4 separate regions of the Homo sapiens genome follow, and regions 1, 2 and 4 are each reported to be linked to region 3. Evidence: microRNA targets listed by miRTarBase, many of them from high-throughput screens and not tested one by one. Region 3 holds a microRNA gene; each other region holds the end of a gene's coding sequence.
What was found. Region 3 holds the annotated microRNA hsa-miR-633 (CUAAUAGUAUCUACCACAAUAAA, at 1,997-2,019, shown strand). A microRNA usually pairs through its seed, bases 2 to 8, with sites in the 3' UTR of a target mRNA and lowers its output. Matches are read on the target gene's strand: a 7mer-m8 pairs with bases 2 to 8, a 7mer-A1 pairs with bases 2 to 7 and ends in A, and an 8mer does both.

Region 1: the mRNA of MIGA1 is a reported target of hsa-miR-633. The part of its 3' UTR that is shown has no 7-base or 8-base seed match.
Region 2: miRTarBase lists MAP4K2 as a target of hsa-miR-633. The part of its 3' UTR that is shown has no 7-base or 8-base seed match.
Region 4: the mRNA of PHC3 is a reported target of hsa-miR-633. The part of its 3' UTR that is shown has no 7-base or 8-base seed match.

The regions. Positions count from the first base shown.
Region 1 is chr1:77,874,522-77,878,521 of GRCh38, reverse strand. It overlaps MIGA1 (mitoguardin 1), which reads right to left. Exons shown (of 16, transcript NM_001416120.1): 16 at 1-3,676. The coding sequence ends at 3,458. Among named protein-coding and RNA genes, the nearest start is that of NEXN, 12 kb to the left of the region's middle.
Region 2 is chr11:64,786,323-64,790,322 of GRCh38, reverse strand. It overlaps MAP4K2 (mitogen-activated protein kinase kinase kinase kinase 2), which reads left to right. Exons shown (of 32, transcript NM_004579.5): 29 at 49-135; 30 at 364-434; 31 at 538-593; 32 at 699-4,000. The coding sequence ends at 786. Among named protein-coding and RNA genes, the nearest start is that of SF1, 9.8 kb to the right of the region's middle. RefSeq lists an enhancer at 1-314.
Region 3 is chr17:62,942,279-62,946,428 of GRCh38, forward strand. MIR633 (microRNA 633) reads left to right here and starts at 1,937; the gene lies at 1,937-2,034.
Region 4 is chr3:170,093,973-170,097,972 of GRCh38, forward strand. It overlaps PHC3 (polyhomeotic homolog 3), which reads right to left. Exons shown (of 15, transcript NM_024947.4): 15 at 1-3,412. The coding sequence ends at 3,258. Among named protein-coding and RNA genes, the nearest start is that of GPR160, 58 kb to the left of the region's middle.

The DNA.
Region 1 (4,000 bases), not on the chromosome of region 3:
ACAGGGTTTACCCTAAAAGGCTCTAAACTAATCATTTTTAAAGACATTGCTTTTGCTATTTAACCCAATTTTAAGGCAAATGGAAACCGTTACATATGTCTTTTTTTTTTTTTTTTTTTTTTTTTTTGAGACAGAGTTTTACTCTTGTTGCCCAGGCTGGAGTGCAATGGCACGATCTCGGCTAACTGCAACCTCCGCCTCCCGGGTTCAAGCGATTCTCCTGCCTCAGCCTCTCGAGTAGCTGGGATTACAGGCATGCGCCACCATGCCTGGCTAATTTTTGTATTTTTAGTAGAGATGGGGTTTCACCATGTTGGTCAGGCTGGTCTCAAACTCCTGACCTCAGGTTATCTGCCCACTTGGGCCTCCCAAAGTGCTGGGATTACAGGCGTGAGCCACTGCTCCTGGCCTGTTATATATGTCTTAAGTACCCTTCTGCATGCAGTCAGAAATGTTCTTTTCAAGAGGACATTTCCTTTAAAAAGTTCAAGTTTCTTATCTTACGATAAAGAGATATTTCCTATACTTATTGTCCTAAAATTCTATTTGGTCACTCTTACCTCTTTTGTGAAAGGCCACATCTTGCTAAAGTAGCAGCTACTGAACTGACCAGAAACAAACTCAAACACTGAATTTGACAAACCAACCTGCTGAATATAAGCAACTTTTTCTAAGATGAAATGTAAAAAAGAAAAAGAAAAAACAAAAAGCAACACCTTCTAGAAAGCCATTCATCTTATCTCATAAAATTAATTCCCCAGAGTTATCTCATGTAGTAGCAGCATTATCAAATAGTGCAATTCTTCAAAATTGATTTCAAATAATATCTTTCTAAAATAAATTACATTTACTTACAGCTTTGCTTATAAAACCACAGCTTAAAACACTTAGCCCTCAAATGGGTAAATTACTATAAGCAATAACTGTCTTGTCTACATGGTAATGAAATGCACGTGCACGCACACATGTGTGTGTGAAGGCCAAAGATACCGCAACAAGGTAAAAACATGTAATATTAAATAAAAAGTAAACAGTACATAATGGAATTTTTAGTTTTGGTACTTCTAATCATATTCCCGTCAATAATAAGAACTATAAATAGGTAATTGTTAAATTAAGCATCTATGTAAGAAAAGGCAAGGAGCTATATACTAAAGAACAGTGATAATTTGTATGTTTCATGCTATATAACCTATAAAGTACATGCAAAACAGCATGATCCTGAATTCCATATTTTATAGTTAATTTACATAAATGTGGCACATACAGAAAATTACAAATCTTAAAAGATTATGCTTTTCCCGCCCACTTTTTTCATCTTCTATTTATTAATCAGAAACTAGGCACTTTAATCTAAAAATTCGCTTTTTAAAAATGCATTTTAGGAGTAAGACATGGTGACACATGCCTCTGGTATGAGGAGTTGGAGACTGCAGTGAGCTATGTATGATAGCACACTGCACTCCAGCCTGGGCAATAGAGCGAGACCCCATCTCTTAAAAGAAGGCAAAAAACAATGCATTTTAGGTCCTTTTGTGCAACTCACTCCTAAAATGACTAAAGCCCGTTTTAGGGGCAAAATCAACAAATCTCATCTACTTACATACTGAGTTAGTCACTCCAAATAAGTGGTATATTATTTAGAAACAAAATTAATACAACTCTGAAAGCATTTAATATACTCTTATAGAAGAACTCCACCCATAAAAACAATTCATTTGTTTGTAGATTTATCATAATGAACATGAAATATATACTTCCACATCATTAAAAAATATTTTTGTTTTACATTCCAGGGAGGAAAAAACTCTTCTTTAAAATGTCAATAAGATTCAAACTATGAATATTTTTAAAACATGGGCATAATATGACAAATTCCCACTGGGCTGAGTTTTCTGTGGGAATAACTAAAAGGAAGGAGAAAGGAGAAATTATTTCACTGTACCAAGTTTCATACCTTCAGATGTTGACAGTCTTCAAATAACACTAAATTTTAAATTGCCTTTATTAATTAATAAATGTTATCTTTTTAATCAATACTCATTCCAGGGGAAAATGCTCTAATGTATAAAAAGAAAGTTCTTCAGTCTCTTTGTAACTTACAGGACCAACAGTAACATATTTTGGAAACTACAGTTAATATAAATTTGTAAATTGTAAATTTCTCAATGTCAATTCATTTAAATGCTGTATTTGTTTTATTTATTCACTTCTGAGATAGGGTCTTGCTGTCGCCCAGGCTGGAGTGCAGTGATGCAATCACAGCTCATGACAGCCTTGACCTTCTGGACTCAAGTGATCCTCCCACCTCAGCCTCCCAAGTAGCTGGGACCACAGACACATGCCACCACACCCAACTAATTAATTTAATTTAATTAATTTATTTTTTGAGACAGAGTCTCACTTTGTTGCCCAGGCTGGAGTGCAGTGGTGCGATCTCGGCTCACTGCAGCCTCCACTTCCTGGGTTCAAGCAATACTCCTGTGTCAGCCTCCCGAGTAGCTGGGACTACAGGCGCCCGCCACCACACCTGGCTAATTTTTGTATTTTTAGTAGAGACGGGGTTTCACCATATTGGGGAGGCTGGTCTCGAACACCTGACCTCAGGTGATCCGCCCACCTTGGCCTCCCAAAGTGCTAGGATTACAGGCATGAACCACCACACCCAGCCTATTTTTATTTTTTAAAAAAATTTTAATATTTCCATGGAACTCTGCTTGATACCAGCTAATTTATTTTTATGTTTTTGTAGAGACAGGCATCTCCTTATGTTGTCCAGGCTAGTCTCAACCTCCTGGCCTCAAACTGTCCTCCTGCCTCAGCCTCCCAATGTATTACAGGCATGAGCCACTGCAAGTGGCCCATTTAAATGTTCTATAACAATATTCAGTGATTACAATTTCTTTGATTCAAATACATAAGCAAATGCACAAGCAATAATGTATGCAGTACATATTAAACATCATTACTGCCTAAACTTGATTAAACAAATGAATAACTTTATAATTAAAAATATGTTTCTAGGCAAAGTTAAATATATTGACATTAGAAGTAATATATTCTTGCATGTGTGGGCCACAAAGACCTTGGCTAAAGTGTACATTTTAAAGGTGCAAAGCATAAAAACAGAGCTTTTGAGAATGACAGCTTCAAGAAGACAAACCAATTAACTCCCAAATATTGGCTTCAATTCAAGCGATATTTCTGTAAAATATACATTTCATGACTTCAATTATTACCTAATGAATGCAAAAAGCCACTATGACTACACTACACAGGAATTCAATGACAGAACTTCTGTATAAATACAGTACAGTTGCTCATTTTTTAGTAGATTTTTTTTTCCTCCCTGAATCCACATGCATCAATTCTGTTAACTTTGTAATATATGTTACAAAATCAATAGTTACCTTAAAATATTTCATAGCACACTCAAATTGTATGATTCTTATGGTACTTATTGTACTTTGGCTTCCAGTAGCCCAGTGGACATAACATGACCATGACTGCTTAGACAACTACTTGTATGCCTCAGGGCATCTGCTTCAAGATAGGCCATTAAAAGCTCAGTGCGGCGAATGAGTAACTGCATGAGGTCTTCAGCTAAAGTCTCTGTACTTGAATAGCGCACCTTCTCAAAGTCAAAAATGTCTTTGAGAAATAAAAGAACTTGATTCTGGAAAATGAACATAAATTGGCATTTATTAGACCAAAATTAAGTTACATTGAGAAAGCTTCTAATATTATAATGAGCACTGAATCAGGACTCAGAAGACCTGACTTCCAGTGCTAGTTTCATATCTCATTAGAAAAGGGACCTTGCACAAGTGATTTAACCTTTCCTTTTTGGGGGCTCATTTTCTTTTTCTGTGAAATAGGGCTAATACCACCCACCCTACTTACTACTCAGGGATGACATGATGATCAAAAAAGATAACCTATGTGATACCATGAAAAGGTGGGGAAACATTTAAAAAAAGATAATCTATAAGAAGTGCCT
Region 2 (4,000 bases), not on the chromosome of region 3:
CAGAAGGGAGCCTCCCCGTCCCCACTCACCAATTCCTTCCCTGTGCAGGCTGTGTGAGGATTGTCAACATGCAGGGCGAGCCCACGGCCACACTGGCACCTGAGCTGACCTTTGATTTCCCCATCGAGACTGTGGGTGAGTGAGCCAGAGGTGGGGTGCAGGCCTTTCCCTGGCCTGGAGCACGTTGTTGCTCAGGGGCCTGGGGCTGGCGGTAGGATGAGGAGGCAGATCCCCTAGCCCCTCTCCTGAGCCATCCTGGTCACCTGAGGTCAGTGAGGACCCCTGTGGCCCAGACCCAGGCTCAGGCGTGGCTGAGGGGGTGCCAAGATGGGTGCAGGGCTGATGGTGGCCTGGCCCCCATAGTGTGCCTGCAGGACAGTGTGCTGGCCTTCTGGAGCCATGGGATGCAAGGCCGAAGCCTGGATACCAATGAGGTGAGTGGGGCCCAGGGACCTTGCTGTCCCCTGCCTTGTGGTCCCTACCTCTTTGGAAAGGACCTACTGGAGTGGCCTCAGTGCTTCCCACCTGTCTTCCCAGGTGACCCAGGAGATCACAGATGAAACAAGGATCTTCCGAGTGCTTGGGGCCCACAGGTAGGCGGTGGTACCCTAGCCTCCCCTTCAGATGCCCCTGAGGCCAGAGAAGGGGCTGATGTACCAAGTGTCTCCCGCCCTGCCCCCTACTCCTCTCTCCTCCAGAGACATCATCCTGGAGAGCATTCCCACTGACAACCCAGAGGCGCACAGCAACCTCTACATCCTCACGGGCCACCAGAGCACCTACTAAGAGCAGCGGGCCTGTCCAGGGGCTCCCCGCCCCACCCCACGCCTTAGCTGCAGGCCCTTTTGGGCAAAGGGGCCCATCCTAGACCAGAGGAGCCCAGGCCCTGGCCCTGCTGGGGCTGAAGGTCAGAAGTAATCCTGAGAAATGTTTCAGGCCTGGGGAGGGAGGGGAGCCCCCGACGCCTCTGCAATAACTGGACCAGGGGGAGCTGCTGTCACTCCCCCATCCCCGAGGCAGCCCAGTCCCTAGTGCCCAAGGCAGGGACCCTGGGCCTGGGCCATCCATTCCATTTTGTTCCACATTTCCTTTCTACTCTTTCTGCCAAGAGCCTGCCCCTGCATTTGTCCTGGGAAACACGGTATTTAAGAGAGAACTATATTGGTATTAAAGCTGGTTTGTTTTAGTCCTCTGGTCCCTCTGGGTAGGGGGAGTGAACCCACCTCATCTCCCGCCTCCTTCCCTCCAACACACGTTTCTGTGGGCACCACAGAAGGGCAGGGCCCCCAGGGTTTTGGAGAAGCCAGGTAGAGGTGACAGGAGGCCATGGCCCCCAGCAGCCTTCTAGGGGCACTGTGCCTTCCCCTGCATCCTTGCTCAGAACTGACCCTCAGCTTTGCAGTTTGAGGGCTCTGCTGTAGTTTAGCACCCCAAGGACTCATGCAGATGGGGGGACCTCAACAAAGGGACTCTCATCCAGGGCACCCTTGCCCCACGTAGGATCTCACTGGGTGACCCCTGGAAGGGCCCAGGAGGAGCCCCCAGAGGGCTGTTCCCTCCATTCCCATGGAGGCTGCTGCCCATGGAGGTAGCCTGTGTGACCTGTATCCCCTGCCTCCACCTACTGCCTAGGTGTTAGACCAGGAACATCAGATGACAGCACGATCATCAGATTGGATGGGAAGGCTAGCCTGTGTCCGTCTACCAGACTCCCAAGGGCTGCCTCAGTGCCAGGCCCTGGGGTCACTACCAGAAACAGACCAGCCCCCAGGGAGGGCGTCCTCCTTGCTGGAGCCTGCATCTTGAGGGCATGGCCATTCTCCTGTAGCTTGTGCTTACGCTGTCATTCTCCAAGGGTCTGTCTGCTCAGCTCTGAATGCCAGGGCCCCCAGGGCTGGGCATCCTCTTTTGCCCCAGGCACTGATCAGCCGCTCTTGACTGGAGCCTTTGGGCAGCTGCAGCCCAGGAGGCAGGATGGGAACTGCCTTGAGGGCCCACAGCTGGGGGGCTGGGAAGGTGGGGGCAGGGTGGGGGGAACAGCTGGAGCAAAGGCCCCATGGTCACCCCTACATTCAAGGCAGGTGTTGGAGGAAGACCTTTGCACCTGGTGGGTGGCAATAAAGACTTGCGGAGTGACGTGGTAGGTGGATGGCAGCCATGCGAGTAGGCTCAGTGGTTCCCAGGGTGTCACACTGTCCCCTCAGCCACCCTCCAGCAGAGTTTCAACTGTTCTGACTCTGTCCAGTGACTGGGAGGGTTTCTTGGCTGGAATGGGGAGCCAGCCCAGGGGAGGGAACACATCTCTTCACACCAGGCATTCACACCCATGTTCCCGTGAGCCCCAAGGAGGGTGAGGGGCACCTTCCAAATTGGGGTCGGTGGTAACAGGGATACAAAGTGAATTCCTAACTTCCAATTTTCCAGATTTCTCGGAGGAATGTTGGGACCAGGGTGGGGTAAGTGGGGACAGGGAGGTGAGCTCCTGCTCAGCAAAGGCCCTGACCAAAGGCGCCCTGGGGAGGACTGGCTTTCCGTTCACCAACCGGCCAGCAGCAGACAGTGCCTCCTTGTGGCGGATCTTCCCGGACCTCAGATTCAGTCTGGAAACGGGGTTTGGACTGCAGAGTGTAAACTGCCAAAGTGGGGGCCTCCCATAAAACGCTTGCTGCCAGCAAAGGCAGGCCAAGAGCAAAGAAAGGCCGAGAAACCAGGGAATATGCACTGAGAGACTAACACTTTAAATTTTATTTATGTATTTTTAAATGCGTAACCTTTGCCCATGGTACATATTTTTTTAAATACAGCAGAGATATAATGAAGTCTCCCTCTTACCCCGTCCCCAGCCACCCTGGTCTCAGTTACTTATGAACCCTTCTAGAAGTATTTTGCGTATTTAAGCAATTTGGTATATTTTATTCTTGGCGATTTTTTATATACGTATTAACATATTCCACATACTGTACTGACCTTGCCCTTTAAAAATATATCCTGGGGGGCCAGGTGTGGTGGCTCACACCTGTAATCCAAGCACTTTGGGAGGCCGAGGCGGGCGAATCACGAGGTCAGGGGTTCGAGACCAGCCTGGCCAACATGGTGAAACCCCGTCTCTACTAAAAATACAAAAAATTAGCTGGGCATGGTGGCGAGTGCCTGTAATCCCAGCTACTCGGGAGGCTGAGGCAGGAGAATCGCTTGAACCTGGGAGGCGGAGGTTGCAGTGAGCCTAGAACATGCCACTGCACTCCAGCCTGGGCGACAGTGCAAGACTCCGTCTCAAAAAAAAAAAAAAGAGAAAAAAATATATATATATCCTGGAGAATATGAATGTATTAAATTATCACATGCACCCTGAAAAGATATGTATATATCCTGGAGAGTTTTGCGTTAAAGATCTCCCTTTAAAAAAAAATTTTTTTTTTTTTACAGCTAGTGGTATTCCATTGTGTATGTTTCCCATAACAAATGTTAATGACCTGCAGTGAGATCCCTATTGGTGGAAATTTGAGTTGTTTTTACTACTTTTATATTACAAACAATGCTGCAATAAATATTATTAGGCTAGTGCCCCTCTGTACATATTCAAGCACTTCTAGAAGATAAGTTCCTGGAAGCAGCATTAATGAGTTAGCGGTGGCTACATATGCCGTGGTGATAGCTGCTGTCCAGTTGCCCCTCCATGGGCAGAAACCTGTGGGAGGGTCAGACCAGACTCTTTAAGTCATTCTTGAGGACAAGTAGAAGGGACGTGGGCCCCCCCAGGATGTTCAGGTAACTGGCCCATACCCGGAGTCATCCTGGTGAAAGTCAAGGGGAGCACCATGATGTGTGCTTCGGGACGGCGGAGGATCTGCCGTGTTCCCTGTGGCATGTCCAGCACCTGCTCACTACCAGTGCTCAGGAGACCCTCACGAGTAAGGGAATGGACAAGATGTGGTGAAGAGGAGTCCCTGCAATCTGCCCTTGGACTGGGTGAGCCACCCCAGCTCGCTGAGCTTTACTT
Region 3 (4,150 bases):
AAGAATAAATTGGTAATGAGTGACTGACCTTGTTGTTTTCTAAGACAGAATCTTCCATCAATTTGTTAATTGTTATTCTGAGATTTGATAAAGGAAACTAATATAAATATAAACAAGAAAAGCTTTAATAAGGTCTTGGATGAAAAATCCATGAAGGACAGATTGGATGTTCATATTTCATCTTTAACCTTTTGAAATTGATTTGATGCCTCTTTAATAAAATCTTTCTTGGTATCCTTGTCAAATGTATAAGGCTGGTGAGAGTATATCACAGGTATGTCATTTATTTCATTCTAATATGAGTCATTGTACTATTCTGGATGTTAAAGAAATAAAAGACACAGCCCTTGAGCTTTCCAGAGAAAAAAATCTAATTGGAGGCTAAAACACACACCCATAAACCAACTTGAGGTAAAATCCAAAGAAACATTTTAGTAACGTCAAGAAATATGGTGTAGTGTAGACTAAAGCTGCAATAGATAAGGAAAAGAAAAAGAAAAAATGATTACACTTGGGATGTGTTTATTATAAGGAAGGCATCTGAAAAAAGGTAAATTTTGGCTTTAAAGATTAGATGGAAATATACAGAAAAGAAGGGGCATAGATTTTTCTAAGCAGTGAGAATTACATGCAATACACGGAGGCAAAATAGTAAGTTATTATACATTCAGGCATCTATAAATAGACAGGCTTGAGGAATCAAGGGAAAGTATGAAGCTAGAGAGAGGTGGAGGAGCAGTTGATAGAAGACATCAAATATGTTTATTTTTGAACTAGTGTGGAATTCTCTTTCTCTTTTCAGTAGAAATAACCTTCACTGTCAACAGCCCAGTCAGACCCCTTAGCTGATATAATGACGATCGCAACTTCCTAGGCTATTATTTGCAATAATTTCTGCCATATGAGTGTAATGGGAAAAATACATTGCAAAGTGAATGACTTTTGAAATGTATTGCATGCTGACATTTGGGAAATTAGATCCTGAACACAATGCATCCTGATTATTGAGGTGCCTTGCCACCATGAAAAGATAAATACAGTCCAACCATTCAAAAAATCTGCATGTTAAATTAATTTAAAGTTCTGTCCTTCGGCAAGGTTCTTCTCAAAACTTTTGGTCACTATTCAGGCAAATAACCATGAGCAGACACTATCCCTGGCCTAGATAGCCTACGTGGGTCTGAGGAGTCCAGAAGTGCCCTCGTTCAAACATAGCTCCATCTTATGAGGAATCCTGCTGTGCTCATTCTCCTATGTACTTGACTGCTCCAGTGCTAGAGGTGCCTGTGCTCAGCTGGCATCCTTTCCATTTCCTGGGAGAAGCACAGCCACGCTCTCTTATGAAGAACAAACAACTCTTCACATCTCCATTCCCACACAGCAAATTCCTCCAGCACCACCAACCCATCTCATCATGAATGTGCATTTGCTTTCCTCTGTAAAGTTTCTGTATTGACGGGCTGCTGGGCTGAGCAACAGTAATTTCAGCAGTCCTGGCTCCACAAGCACAGGTCAGGAATGGGTTTGAAGAAAGCTCTTCTGAAGATATCACAAATTTTGCTGTTTTAAGCCAAGGCCTGCCTTGTTTACTGAACATGTCCAATTTGTGTGCTGAATAGAGCAATATAACGAGAGGAAGGGAAGATGGACAGGGAAATAATGGGACCTCACGTGCAGATTACAAACAGAACCTAGAAATTAACTGAGAATGCTAAAGAGGAAGAGGAATATGAAAGCAATAGTGAAGGGTCAATAATTTCCACATAAATCAGACCAGATGATTATTTTGATCATTAAATTGATTTAACCACAGCTTTATATACAATCAGAGTACATGGCTCTATATATAACAACAGCTCTTGGTTGTAGTCAGAGAGGACTGGGTTTGAGTCCTGGCTTATTGCTTACCTGATTAATGGTTTTGGTTATGCTACTCAACCTCTCTTAGCCTCTGTTTCTTTATTGCGGTAGATACTATTAACCTAAAATGAGAAGGCTAATAGTATCTACCACAATAAAATTGTTGTGAGGATAAAAAAAAATATTAATTAGGATGCAGTATGAAAAAAATAAAAGTTAGCTATCTTTATTTTTGAAATTTATGTAAGTCTAATTTCTCCAAAGTAAATTGGCTTATATTCACCAGGAGGAATGTCTAATTAAAAGAATCTTATTCTGAGTCTTTTGTGGCAGCAGATTATCACTATCTGATCTTTCTTTTACTTCTGTATTTTCATTGAGTTGGCTTACATAAAGCTGCACTTATAAATTTAAATATGCCTCCAATACCACTCGGCAAGTCTTCTTATAGAGAGCTAGATACATATTTAATAAACAGTTAATATAGTTTGCAACTTCCCCAAAGTAAATTAGGTGAAAAATCCCAAATGCTTGAATTTGGGGAAAAATTTACACATATAAATATGAATTTATTTATTTATTTATTTATTTTTAATTTTTTTTTTTTGAGATGGAGTCTTGCTCTGTTGCCCAGGCTGGAGTACAGTGGCGCAATCTCGGCTCACTGCAACCTCCACCTCCCCGGTTCAAGCAATTCTCCTGCTTCAGCCTCCCAAGTAGCTGGGACTACAAGCACATGCCACCATGCCCAGATGATTTTTGTATTTTTAGTAGAGACGGGGTTTCACCATGTTGACCAGGCTGGTCTTGAACTCCTAACCTCATGATCCACCTGTCTTGGCCTCCCAAAGTGCTGGGATTACAGGTGTGAGCCACTGTGCCCGGCCGAATATATTTATTATTGTTAGCCCTTGTTACAATGCTGCCATTTTATAAATCAGGAAACTGCGGCAGAGAGAGGTTAAATAGCTTGATCAAAGTTACATTGATTGCTGGGCACATCCTCTCCATCCTTTTCCAGGTGCCTTATACCTAAGTATTATCCAAAACTACCTCTTCATTTCAGCCTGCAAACCTCTTCCTATATTCCTTTTCTCAGTTAATGGCACCACCATCCACCCAGCGATCCAAGCTAGAAATCTGCGAGCCATCCTAGACTTCTCCAGCTTCCTCATTCCTCATCACACTAAGTCCTACAGTTTTATCTATCAAATATTTATTGAATCTGACCTCCTCTTCTCCATTCTTATCACCACTGCTTTTCATTCAAGCTTCTATCATTTCTCACCCAAACTACTACAACTGTCTCCTCACTCATCTCTCTGATACTAGCCCTGCTGCCTTCACATCAGTCTTCTAAACAGCTTCCAGGATGATATGTCTAAAACACAAACTAATCATGTCAATCCCCAGTTTAAAAACCTTCCATGGTTCCCAATAGAGACTGTTTTTTGTTTGTTTGTTTCTTTGTTTTTGTTTGTTTTGTTTTGTTTTTGAGACAGAGTCTTGCTCTGTCGCCCAGGCTGGAGTGTAGTGGCGTGATCTCGGCTCACTGCAACCTCCGCCTCCTGGGTTCAAGCAATTCTCCCGCCTCAGCCTCCCGAGTAGCTGAGATTATAGGCGTGTGCCACCACACGCAGCTAATTTTTGTATTTTTAGTAGAGACGGGGTTTCACCATATTAGCCAGACTGGTCTCGAACTCATGACCTCAAATGATCCAAACGCCTCGGCCTCCCAAAGTGCTGGGATTATAGGCATGAGCCACCACGCCTGGCCGACTGCTTTTAAAATAAAGCCCAGTCTTCCTAGTATGGCCCTTGTGATCCCAAAGAACACCTCTCTCTTAGTCCTAACAAAGTTTAATTAAAATGAAGTCTTTGTGTGATTCCCCCCACTTTTAGACTTTGGGCTCTTGAAAGGCAGAGACAAAGTCTTTTCATCTTTGTAATCTCAGTATCTACCAATGCCATTTAAAAATTATTGAACCCAAATGAAATGATGACATTATATTTGAACTTAGTAGATCAGCTTACACTTTTAAAAACAGTTTTCAGTCAGGTGCGGTGGCTCATGTTTGTAATCCCAGGACTTTGGGAGGCTGAGGCAGGAGGATTGCTTGAAGCTAAGAGTTCAGGACAAGCCTGGGCAACATAGCAAGACTGACTCTAAAACAAAAATTAGCCAGGCATGATGGTGCATGCCTGTAGTCCCAGCTACTTGGAGGCTGAGGTGGGAGGATTGCTTAAGCCCAGGAGTTTGAGGCTGCAATGAACTATGATTGCACCCTAC
Region 4 (4,000 bases), not on the chromosome of region 3:
GGATGATGGCCTCCTCCTCTGACTCTTCCCATGCTCAAGCTTTTGCATTACCATTTCTCTCCTCCCATTCCACCTTGTCTACTCCTAGGTGACTGCTCTTAAAACACACCTTTTAAAAAGTTCTGTTTAGAGCATTCAACAGCAAAGTAACAGGACCATCAGGGAAATAATATGCTACTTAAAAAGTGACAGGAGGATTTGGGACAACACTCTATCTCATACTATATTGACTACTCAAAGCTGCATAGCTGTGTCTTACACATGCCTACACAAGGCTTGATGAATATTAATGTCATATAAAAAATAATTTTTACAAATCAGCTCTCTTAGTTGTTTAACTTCCCCAGGAACACAAGGCTTAAAGCAAAATTTCAAACTTATGCTTTTTATCCCAATGGGACAAAGAGTGCAACACTGCAAGGAAGTCAGAAAATGCAAACTTAGGTAGCAAAAGTAGGAAGAACCTCCATGTTCCCTTTCTGTTTGTCATTATCTCTCCCCAGTCAAAATCCTAAAACTATTAGTAGTAGTATGAAAGGATATGAAAACAATTTACTCTCCCCACCTATATCATACTGAAACTCTGCTTTAAAGCTCAGGAGAGAGGTGGATGCTCAGTGTTGTCTATATATCCATTATATATAGCTGAAGCTTTGAAATTAAGATGATTAACTCATCTTGAAAGAAACAGCTGCACCAATGTGATAGCAAACAAGCCATTTTTAAATAAAAACTCACTTGAAAAAAGCAAGTGCATATTTTGTGTATGTTTTGAGTGGGGACAACAGAGATCTGGACTAGATTTAAGATTATACGGTATTCTCCAATAGAAAACCCTCTTGTAAGCCCCTCCTGAATACTTAAGACAGCAGTAGGCACAGGGGCTTTCAATAAGTACAGAATGGCTGCTATTAGGAAAGAGAACAAATAAAAGGAGAGCCTACAACACAGTTCAAAATTGATACCTTAAAGGCCATAGGTAATACAGTTATAGGATGTAATCATTATTGCTGGAGCAGTCTATCCCCATATAATAAATTTTGTATTAACCGTGGATAATCTATGAAAAGTTTTAATTCCAGGCGAGATTTTCCGTTGCACCTCTCTCTCTCATACTGTGGGCCATCTCTTACTAATGCTTAGCCTGTATTTGTGTTCTGAAATTCCAAGAAGAGGGAAAAGTCAAGCATATGACAATTCTGTCATGATGATTAACTGCTAATAAATGAAAACTCATTATAGAGTACCTAGCTTTCCTTGATACTTTAATCCAATGATTAAAAATGTGATATAAAGAAATACGTAACATAGACTACAAGCTATCGTAGGTCTGGAACATGAGCCTTATATTATATTACATATTCTAATCCTACATGTAACTATCAGTAAACATCTTTTTTTAAAACATTACTACACAAAGAATTCCACAAAGCATACATTCAAACAAGAGGCATCTAAAGATTAAAAAAATTACCCGCTGTATTTTTGTATAAAAATAATCAACATTCTCTAATGTACACAAAGCCAAAAGATAAATATAGTATCTGTGATGTCTTCAGTGACATCTTTAGTCTTCTACCAGCTCAACACAATCTTTTTGAAAAGAGCAGTGAAAATGACTGAAACTCACGGACTCTTTTTTTCCCCTCCTTACTCGACTTCTGCCAAATATCTGTGTATGTTCCTTCAATTACTAAAATATCTCAATTGTGGTAATATAAGAAAAGATGAAAACAAAACATTCATCATCTCAAATAAAATTTTTGATGTCCAGGACTATAAAGCTTTCAGGGCTTCCACAAACAATTTTGTTTTAGTGTCATAATTCTATAGAACACTGTTCAGTAAAAGGTTTTGCTTTACATTTTTTTCCTCAAACATGTACATACAAAATTATATCCGATGGTTCAAGAGAAATCACTTGGTAAGTGCTTTGCAGGAAGCATGCAAACGTTTGGTAAAGGAAGTAGGAATGTGCATTCTAGCTAGTCCCAGCATGTTCAACAATAGAAAAAAATCCAAAGAGCAACCACGTATCTGCTACAAACTATTTTCTTGCCAGAAAAGGCTGTGCACTAGTTCATAGGTATAATCATATTATGTCTTCGTCAGTGCAGAGGAGCACAGAGGTATGAAAGATAATCAGAATGAATTAGTACTTTCTGAGAGTTAAATTATTTGCATGTTTGTCCTTATTTTATAGGACAATTTGTAGATTTTTTTTCTTTTTCTAGTATGATTAAACTAGAAAAAATTATTCAGCAGAATATTAATGTTATCTGAATAATACTTCCATCATATATGTTTAGTAAGCTTCATCCTTTAAAAGTATTCCTTTGGGTGAAAACAATATTTATCACTCCTTCTATATCAGAGTTTCTCAACCTTGGCAGTACCGATATTTTTGAACCAATAATTCTTTACAGTGGAGGGGTGCTGTCCTGTGCATTATAAGATGTTTAGAAACATCTCTGGCTTCTAACTACTAGACACCAGTAGCAACCCTCCCCTGAACCCACCCCCAAGCTGTGACAACCAAAATGTCTCAACATTGCCAGATGTCCCCTGGCGATCAAAACTGACCTCCACTGAGAACCACTGCTCTAAATAAATGTACAAAAACTGAGAGGAAAACGTTCTCAGTCAAACCAAATTCTTGGTCAAGTTTGGAATAGAAACTAACTCTTCTCACTTCCAGATCAGTATTGTTCATACTAGAACACAATTCCTTTTTTATAGATAAAGCATATGTCTAAAAGACATGTTTTTTAAAATGTACACTGATTTCATACGATTCTGTCACTGGACTACTAAATTATTCCATAATATACCTCTCATGACAACCTTTAGAAAACTAATAGGGTAGAAAAAATGTATAAGAAAATTGAATCAAAAGAGGAGAAATGTAAATCATTAAATTACTTTTAAAAGGATTCTTTATATTAATGATAAACATCACCTTTAAAAAAATTATCTAGTATAACACATTTCTTTGAAAAATATCATGGCCCTCTGTAACAAGTCTTTCAATGTTTCATGTAACCTGTAAAATTAATTTTACCAATGTTTATTAATTATGAAAATGCATGATGAATTATTATACCTGTAGAAGAAATGTCAGTATTTGATGTGGAGATCCCAATGTGCTTGGCTATCCACCACAATAAGTGTCATATTCTAGACCAAGTTAGGCCTTTACCTTACAAGTTTTTGTGAGAAAAGTAAAACTGCTGTTTTATCAAGGCTTCATGTTCCTGTTAAGATTCCTTCAGAGAGTTGATGCGTGCACAGATCTTCAGGGCTGGGCCTAGCTTGATATTCATTGCACTCATGAGATGGTCTTCTTTCAGCAAGAGAAGGGCCTGTCCATCAATCTCCTGTGCTCTGAATTCATCTGCGATATCCTGGCAGCCTGGAATTTGACCAGAGGACAGAAGTTAGAATTAAATATACAACAATTAGACATTACTCCTAACAGTCACAGTTATGCTCTCACTGGGTCTGAGAATCTGAAATACAGGCTGAGAAACAAATGAAATTTATTTATGGTAGTCTTGAGTTCACTCTTGAAGAATAGAGTATTTGCATTCTGAAAATAAGAATTCAAAATCCAGGTAAAGCAATTTGCTTGGAATTCTTGCTCTAAAATAATGTTATAGAAATAATTCATAAGAGGGAAGTCTAGATATAATACTTCCTTCACAAAAAGGACTATGGTGTTACCTCAAAGCATGCCACATAACAGGTTTGGGTTAACTAGTTATACCTCATGCACTTATCTCTGTATAATATATCCTTCACATATAGGTAAAGAGGAAACAAAAATATGTTTTGTCATTTAAATAACAATCTAGAAATATTTTCTCAAGTAAGTACCACTTTCATTATCATTTGTACCTTATCCTAATTTATGACCTTCACTTGAAAAGTACATTTAAAATATTTTTATTGTTCACTCGGGACATATCAAATTTCTCAAGACTGTATTACCAATCTATTG